Linked DNA regions of Homo sapiens. The protein of the gene in region 2 purifies or fractionates together with the protein of the main gene of each other region. This does not show direct contact. Each region holds a gene or a part of one and is shown on either strand. Other genes may lie near its edges. The genes, in order: PLXDC2 and SSC5D.

Region 1 (3,822 bases), on a different chromosome or scaffold from region 2:
CCTGTTGGCCATTTTTTTTGTCTTCTTTGGAGAAATGTCTTTTTTAGGCACTTTGCCTATTTTAATATCAGTTATTTACATTAAGCCTTCTGTTGATAGATAGGACTTTCAAAAAGTTTATTCCACTATTTTCCTATACTGCTAGTTTCTTTCTGGATGTTTACTTACTTTTTTTTTTTGAGACAGAGTCTCGCTGTTTCTCCCAGTCTGGAGTGCAGTGGCGCGATCTCAGCTCACTGCAAGCACCGCCTCCCAGGTTCACGCCATTCTCCTGCCTCAGCTTCCCAAGTAGCTGGGACTACAGGCACCCGCCACCACGCCCAGCTAATTTTTTGTATTTTTTAGTAGAGACGGGGTTTCACTGTGTTAGCCAGGATGGTCTCGATCTCCTGACCTCGTGATCAACCCACCTCAGCCTCCCAAAGTGCTGGGATGTTTACTTATGCTTTTAATTTAATATCTTAAAATATGATATACATATATATGTACATATGCATACATATATGGTGGTGGTGGTGTTTCATTTCACTGAAGATGAAGACTATTAAATAATTTTGGTTCTTTGTGGGATTCTTTTTGAATTAAACTGTTTTAGGCCTCATGTCACTAAACTATAATGAAGGAGGCTGTAAAAATATTGTCTCGGCTGGGCGTGGTGGCTCACACCTGTGATCCCAGCACTTTTTTGGGAGGTGGAGGTGGGTAGATCAAGAGGTCAGGAGATCAAGACCATCCTGGCCAACATGGTGAAACCCCGTCTTCCCTAAAAATAAAAAAAATTAGCCAGGCATGGTGGCATGCACCTGTAGTCCCAGCTACTCAGGAGGCTGAGGCAGGAGAATCGCTTGACCCGGGAGGTGGAGGTTGAGATTGCGCCACTGCACTCCAGCTGGGCGACAGAGCAAGACTTCATCTCAAAAAAAAAAAAATTCTCATAAAACTTGTTTTGAGGTGAGGTTCAGTGGCTCACACCTGTAATCCCAACACTTTGGGAGGCCGAGACAGGGGGATTGCTTGAGTCCACGATTTGGAGACCAGCCTGGGCAACATAGGGAAGAGACCTCATCTCTACAGTTTTTTTGTTTTGTTTTGTTTTGTTTTTAATTAGCTGTTCATGGTGGTGCACACCTGTAGTCCCAGCTACTTGGTAGGCTGAGGTGGGAGGATCACTTGAACCCAGGAGGTCAGGGCTGCAATGAGCTGTGATTACACCACTGCATTCCAGCCTGGCCAACAGAGTGTGACCCTGTCTCAAAAAGTAAAATAATAAAAAATCTTGCTGTGGGAGCTGTTACAGGGAAGCAGATGAGGATATTCTGCAATACATTTCACGGTGTCTGCTCCCCAAGATATTATGCCATGAGAAAATGAGAAAGAGAAAGAGACAGAGACAGGGTGAGAGACCTTATGTTTCAATAACAGACATAGTTCTTTTGAACTTGTTTGTGTCTTCTGGACATTATAAATAGTACCTAGGAGTTTTACCATTTAACTTTTGGTTTCTTGAAATCTCAGTGCAAGATTTGTGGCCCACCTCCAACAAGCATATAAACCTTCTGGCCTACATTTGTGTGCTAGCTTACCTATGTCTTCATCTTACCTTTTCTACCTTTTCTCACTTAAAATCTTGTTTGGTATTTGTTTTGGAGATGGGAAAAAAGCAAATAAAATTGAATCGCCATAATACATAAGGTTGTGTATCACTAAGTTGCTTTCCACTTTCTCTTAATCTGATGAATTCCAGCCCTTTGGCTTTATTCTGAGCACATTTTCCCAAAGCTGTAATTATCTCTGTAGAGTACTCCATTCTGAGAGGTCTTTCTTCACTGAGTTCACACAGGATATCTTCCCTCACTGCCTCCCACACAATGATTCTGTTAAGCTGAGGAAGTTACTAGAGAATGACAGGCTAAGTAGTGATGCTTTTATTAAGAAAGTTTCTTCCACTATTTATTGTGTTATACATTAACAGGATAATAGCTGACAAAAGATGAGAATATAAAATATTCCACATGTGTTTATAACCAGACAGTGAACTCATTTCATATTTATTGTTTGGTTTTATTTTCCTCTTTTTAATTAAAAAGGTGGTAAGCTGTGGAATGATGGTATAGATTTGTATATTTAAATAGAATTAGAGGTCTTGTCAGGGGCCTGTTTGGAATTAGCCTGTTAAGGATTACAGATCTGAACATGGGGTCAGACACTAAGTGACGTTACTGGATATCCAGACTTTTAAATCTCTTCTGTCAGAGGCCATCAAACCAGATCTAAGCGCTGGTACCTTTACCTTACCCTTCAAATTAAAATAGGCTGTCCTCACTCTTTCTGCTTGAGGCCTTATCATAGTTAGTGGTCTGTGAATTTTGTCAAGAGAGGGTCACAGGCCAAGATGCAGACTGACTTCCTTTTTACTTGTCTGGAATCTTATTACTCAGTTCCTCAATTATTTTTTACTCAATAATTGGACATTTTCCTTAGAATCCATGTTGTTCGAGGTCTCGTCCTGTAGGTAAGGTGTGTAGCTCATTGAGGCTTTGAGAATATGGAGAGAATGTTAAGAGTTTGCCCTATGGAAAAACTGCATAGGAATCCGAATATTTGAAAGTCAATTCTCTATGTATTCCTTGGAGTGTTCAGTGATACAAAAAGTCTAAATAAAACTGATATATTCTCTTTGAGTATGATGCTTGGTAAGTACACTCTGGTTCATTTTGCTTAGGATACTGTATTCTTGGGTCCAGCTGGAATATGGAACATTGAACATTCGATAATGTTTTTTGGGTAGTAGTTACAGATATCTGCTTACAGTAGCAACTGCTTACAGTAGTAACTCCTACCATTTTCTGTCTGAAACCATTATATGAACATCCAATAAAATATTTATTTCCCTAAAGCCTAAAAGGGAAGTAGGACAGGCAGAATTTATCATTTAGAGCATGAAATGTACCAATAATGATGAGTTTTAAGATGGGAAAGTATTTAAGGTACATTTCAGGTACTGCTCATGCTGAATCTATTATATCTATTTGCTGAATTCTTTCCAACATACAAACTTAGACTGTAGCTACCGCTGACCTAATGAACCTGGTTATTTATATGCTGTCTTTTTGTTCATTTGTCTGGTCAAAAGGGCCCACTCACCTTCCTGTGGGCATAGCTGGCGGGAGCAAGTCTGGTATTTCAGCTGACTTCTCCTTTTGGCTTTCTCTTCTCCTTCTCCTTTTGCTATCTTTTCTCTTCAATTCATTGAAAAATGTCTATATATAAATTACATAAATGCAATCTGCATTGCAAAATATCCCAATGAAAAGTATATATGAAATAATTTTTGGCAAACTGAGTCATGTTCTTAGTGGATATGGGTTCCTGTGATTTCAAGGAATGCTGTCCTGAACTTTTAATTTAAAAACATTCAACCTCCTAATTATTTTGCCAGTCCGTAGTTTTATGTTTAAGATTGCCCAAAATGTACTGCCTGTCCATAATTCTTTCAAGAATTATTGCTTCTGATATTAGCCATTTTAATTCTATTTACTATTTATATAGGTCCTGGGAATATACACCTTTGAATTTTTTGTTGTTGTCATTTAGCCCTTTAATTTGCTAATTCCAGGAAACAAAAATTGAACTAAGAGACATACCACTGTGTCTTTGCACTTTTTTTCTTGGTGCTTGTTTGGAGCAGAAACAGGAGGGTCATTTTAGTTTTTTTGTCATACAAGAAAAATTTGAAGAATATTTTAATACTTTGAAAACTGTGGATGCCCTGTGAAAATCAAGTTGACTTGTGAGGTTAAAACAAATTTTATTTCACATTTT
Region 2 (3,822 bases):
TTAGGGCAAGAGGGCAGGTGACTCGCCCAAGGTCACACAGACATAGTTTGCAAGTTGCAGGGCTAAGACTTGAACCCAAGTTGTTTGCACATAGAGTCTAGGCAATGAAATCTCACATCTGCAGTGATGGGAATGCGCTGTGATCTACCGTGCCAATACAGTAGCCACTGGCCACATGTGGCTACCAAGCCCTTGAAATGCGGCCAGTGTGAATGAGAAACTAAATGTTTCATTTTCTTTTATTTTATTTTATTTTTTTTTTTGAGACGGAGTCTCACTCTGTCGCCCAGGTTAGAGTGCAGTGGCACGATCTCGCCTCACTGCCAGCTTTGCCTCCCAGGTTCATGCCATTCTCCTGCCTCAGCCTCCCGAGAAGCTGGGACTACAGGCGCTCGCCACCATGTCCTGCTAATTTTTTGTATTTTTAGTAGAGATGGGGTTTCACTGTGTTAGCCAGGACGGTCGCGATCTCCTGACCTCGTGATCCGCCCGCTTCGGCCTCCCAAAGTGCTGGGATTACAGGCGTGGCCACTGCGCCCGGCAAATGTTTCATTTTCAAAGTGTTAATTCATTTAACTTTTTTTTTTTTTTTTTTTTTGAGACGGAGTTTCACTCCTGTTGCCCAGGCTGGAGTGCAGTGGCGCGATCTTGGCTCGCTGCAATCTCCGCCTCCTGGGTTCAAGTGATTCTCCTGTGTCCACTTCCTGAGTAGCTGGGATGACAGGCATGTGCCACCATGCCCAGCTAATTTTTTTGTATTTTTAGTAGAGATGGGGTTTCACTATGTTGTTCAGGCTAGTCTTGAACCCCCGACCTCAGGTGATCTGCCTGCCTCAGCCTCCCAAAGTGCTGGAATTTCAGGCGTGAGCCACCATGCCCGGTGCTCTTAGCTACCGTATTGAACCACACAGATCTACAGATTTCCACTTGTTCCTGCAGGGCAGGGTCTTTCAGGCGCATCCCTTCCCCACCTTGTCCTTTGTTTGCAGGATTGGAGAAGCGGTTAAGTAAAGGGCTTGTGCTCAAGGCAGGCTGTCCGAGTTTAAACCCCAGCTGCATGGCTTCCTAGCGGGGTGACCACGGCCAAGTTACTTCACTGCTTGAATCTCAGTTTCTTCCTCAGCTATAGACTGTGGATGATCCGCGTATCTCCCTTGCAGAGCTGTCAAAAGGACTCAGGGAGACCATGGTTGTGCAAAGCACTTAGTGTAATGTCTAGCATGGAATAAGCACTCTAATAATTATTGATGTCAGAGTCACTGATGTCTGTGCCTCAATTTCACTCATCTGAGAAATGGGCAAAATTATAGATCTACGTCATGGAGCTCATGCAGATTTCCTTCCCTCCTTTCTCCCTTCCTCCCTTCTTCTCTCTCTCTCTTTTTTTTTTTTTTTTAACAGAGTCTTTCTCTGTTGCCCAGGCTGGAGTGCAGTGGTGCGATCTCAGCTCACTGCAACCTCCGCCTCCCAGGTTCAAGCAGTTCTCCTGCCTCAGCCTCCCGAGTAGCTGGGATTACAGGCGCCTGCCACCACACCTATTATTATTATTATTATTATTATTATTATTATTATTATTATTATTATTATTTTGAGACAGAGTCTCACTCTGTTGCCCAGGCTGGAGTGCAGTGGCGCAATCTCGGCTCACTGCAAGCTCTGCCTCCTGGGTTCACGCCATTCTCCTGCCTCAGCCTCCCGAGTAGCTGGGACCATAGGTGCCTACCACCACGCCTGGCTAATTTTTTGTATTGTTAGTAAAGACAGGGTTTCACCGTGTTAGCCAGGATGGTCTCGATCTCCTGACCTCGTGATCTGCCCGCCTCAGCCTCCCAAAGTGCTGGGATTACAGGCGTCAGCCATTGCAGCCAGCCTAATCATGCTTAACTTTACTAAATACTGCTGGATTGTCTTTATCAAACAGCTCTGTCCAGTGGGGTTGCCTGTCTTCCCACATCCTCACTCACACTGGATAATACCCACCTTTCTCATTCTCCTCTGTACTTGCCATTGTTTTAATTTGTATTTTCTGGTTCCTGATGAGCGTGGGCATTTCTAAATACACTCAGCCATTTGGGCTTCCTTTTCTGGGAATCACCTGTTTTCCTCTTTCTCATCTAGGGTTTCCTATCATTTTCCTATTTGTCACAGTGACTTATGCCATCTAGGCTGGGGTTTCTCAACCTCGGTACTATTGTAATTTAGGGCTGGGTGGTTCTTTGTTATGGGGAATGTCGTGTGCATTGTGAATGTTTATCACCACCCCGGCCTCTACCGATCAGGTGCCAATGGGTAGCCTCTCACTTCCTGCCATGACAATCCAAAATATCTTCAGATATTGCCAAATTCCCCTTGGGGGCAAAATCGACCCTAGTTGATGACCAGCGGTCTAGATAATAACCTCTTGGTTCTGTTTTTGTCTTTATTTGAGACAAGGTCTCGCTCTGGCACCCAGGCTGGAATACAGTGGCACAACCACAGCCTCGAGCACCCAGGCTCAAGGGATCCTCCTGCCTCAGCCTCCCAAGCAGCTGGGACCACACGTGCGTACCACCACACCCAGCTAATGTTCATATCTTGGGGGGCTCACCATGTTGCCCAGGCTGCTCTCAAACTCCCGAGCTTAAGCAATCCTCCCAACTCGGCCTCCCAAAGTGCTGTGATTACAGGCATGAGCCACCATGCTCAGCCGATAACCCTTTGTTTTAGGGTATATTTCTGCTGAGTCTTTCTGGGGTAAGGGTTCCAGTGGGGAGTCTGGAATCTGTCTCTTTACCCCAGGACAAATACCGTCCCAGTCTCCTCACCCCAGCCACGTGTCTCACCTGTGTCTCCATGGACTCTCAGAGTTGGAGGACTGCCTGGGCTCCTGGTGGTGCCAGCCCCAAGAGTTGGTCCTAGTTTGCCTGCGGTAGGGGTCCCCTCAGCCAGGCCCCTTCCTGATGGTGTGTCCCACGTCCAGGGAAGCTTGTAACCATCTTTGCTGCCTAGAGAGATATGGGGAAGAGGATTGAGTCTTCCAACTTCCCTTTGAGTTTGACTCCCCGTCTCTCTCCTCCTGGGCCAGCCCCAGTTCAGGCATCATCCCGTCTCAACTGCACCGCCACTGCAGCCCTACCTGACCTCGTGGAGACCTTCTCCATTCAGCTGGGATGTTTTTGGCTACCAACGACGGAAACGGTCACTAAACTAGCACATAAAATGAAGGGCATTTGGGCCTGGCGCCGTGGCTCAAGCTTGTAATCCCAGCACTTTGGGAGGCTGAGGCAGGCAGATCACTTGAGGTCAGGAGCTCAAGACCAGCCTGGCCAACATGGAGAAACCCCATCTGCACTAAATATACAAAAAATTAGCTGGGTATGGTGGCACACGCCTATAATCCCAGCTACTCGGGAGGCTGAGACAGGAGAATCACTTGAACCTGGGAGACAGAGGTTGCAGTGAGCCAAGACTGTGCCACTGCACTCCTGCCTGGGTGACAGAGCGAGACACCGCCTCAAAAAAAAAAAAAAAGGAATTTATTATTTTAATTCCTCAAGGCTCCTGCCCTAGCGGGGGAAAAACCATAACATCTTTATTAATTCACTGCCTGGAACATCTCTATAATACTATTTTTCCTTTTTTTTTTTTTTGGCCAAATGCACTTAATCTCTATATAATAGCAATTTTATATAACATATAAATGTATAATATATATACATATATGTATGCCATTTTATTTAGGGAGAATAGAATGATAATTCAGTCCTAGCTTTATACAAACAACAGCTTTCTTTTCTTTTCTTTTTTTTTTTTTTTGAGACCAAGTCTCACTCTGCCACCCAG

Evidence for each region.
Region 1: the proteins of SSC5D (region 2) and PLXDC2 purify together in Homo sapiens (affinity purification with mass spectrometry; one large-scale study listed by BioGRID and IntAct). This does not show direct contact.

Annotation. Positions count from the first base shown.
Region 1 is NC_000010.11:19,822,755-19,826,576, forward strand, and holds part of PLXDC2 (plexin domain-containing protein 2 isoform 1 precursor), read left to right. Parts: intron 1-3,822. UniProt on the Homo sapiens protein: May play a role in tumor angiogenesis.
Region 2 is NC_000019.10:55,512,173-55,515,994, reverse strand, and holds part of SSC5D (soluble scavenger receptor cysteine-rich domain-containing protein SSC5D isoform 1 precursor), read right to left. Parts: intron 2,985-3,822; coding exon 2,823-2,984; intron 1-2,822.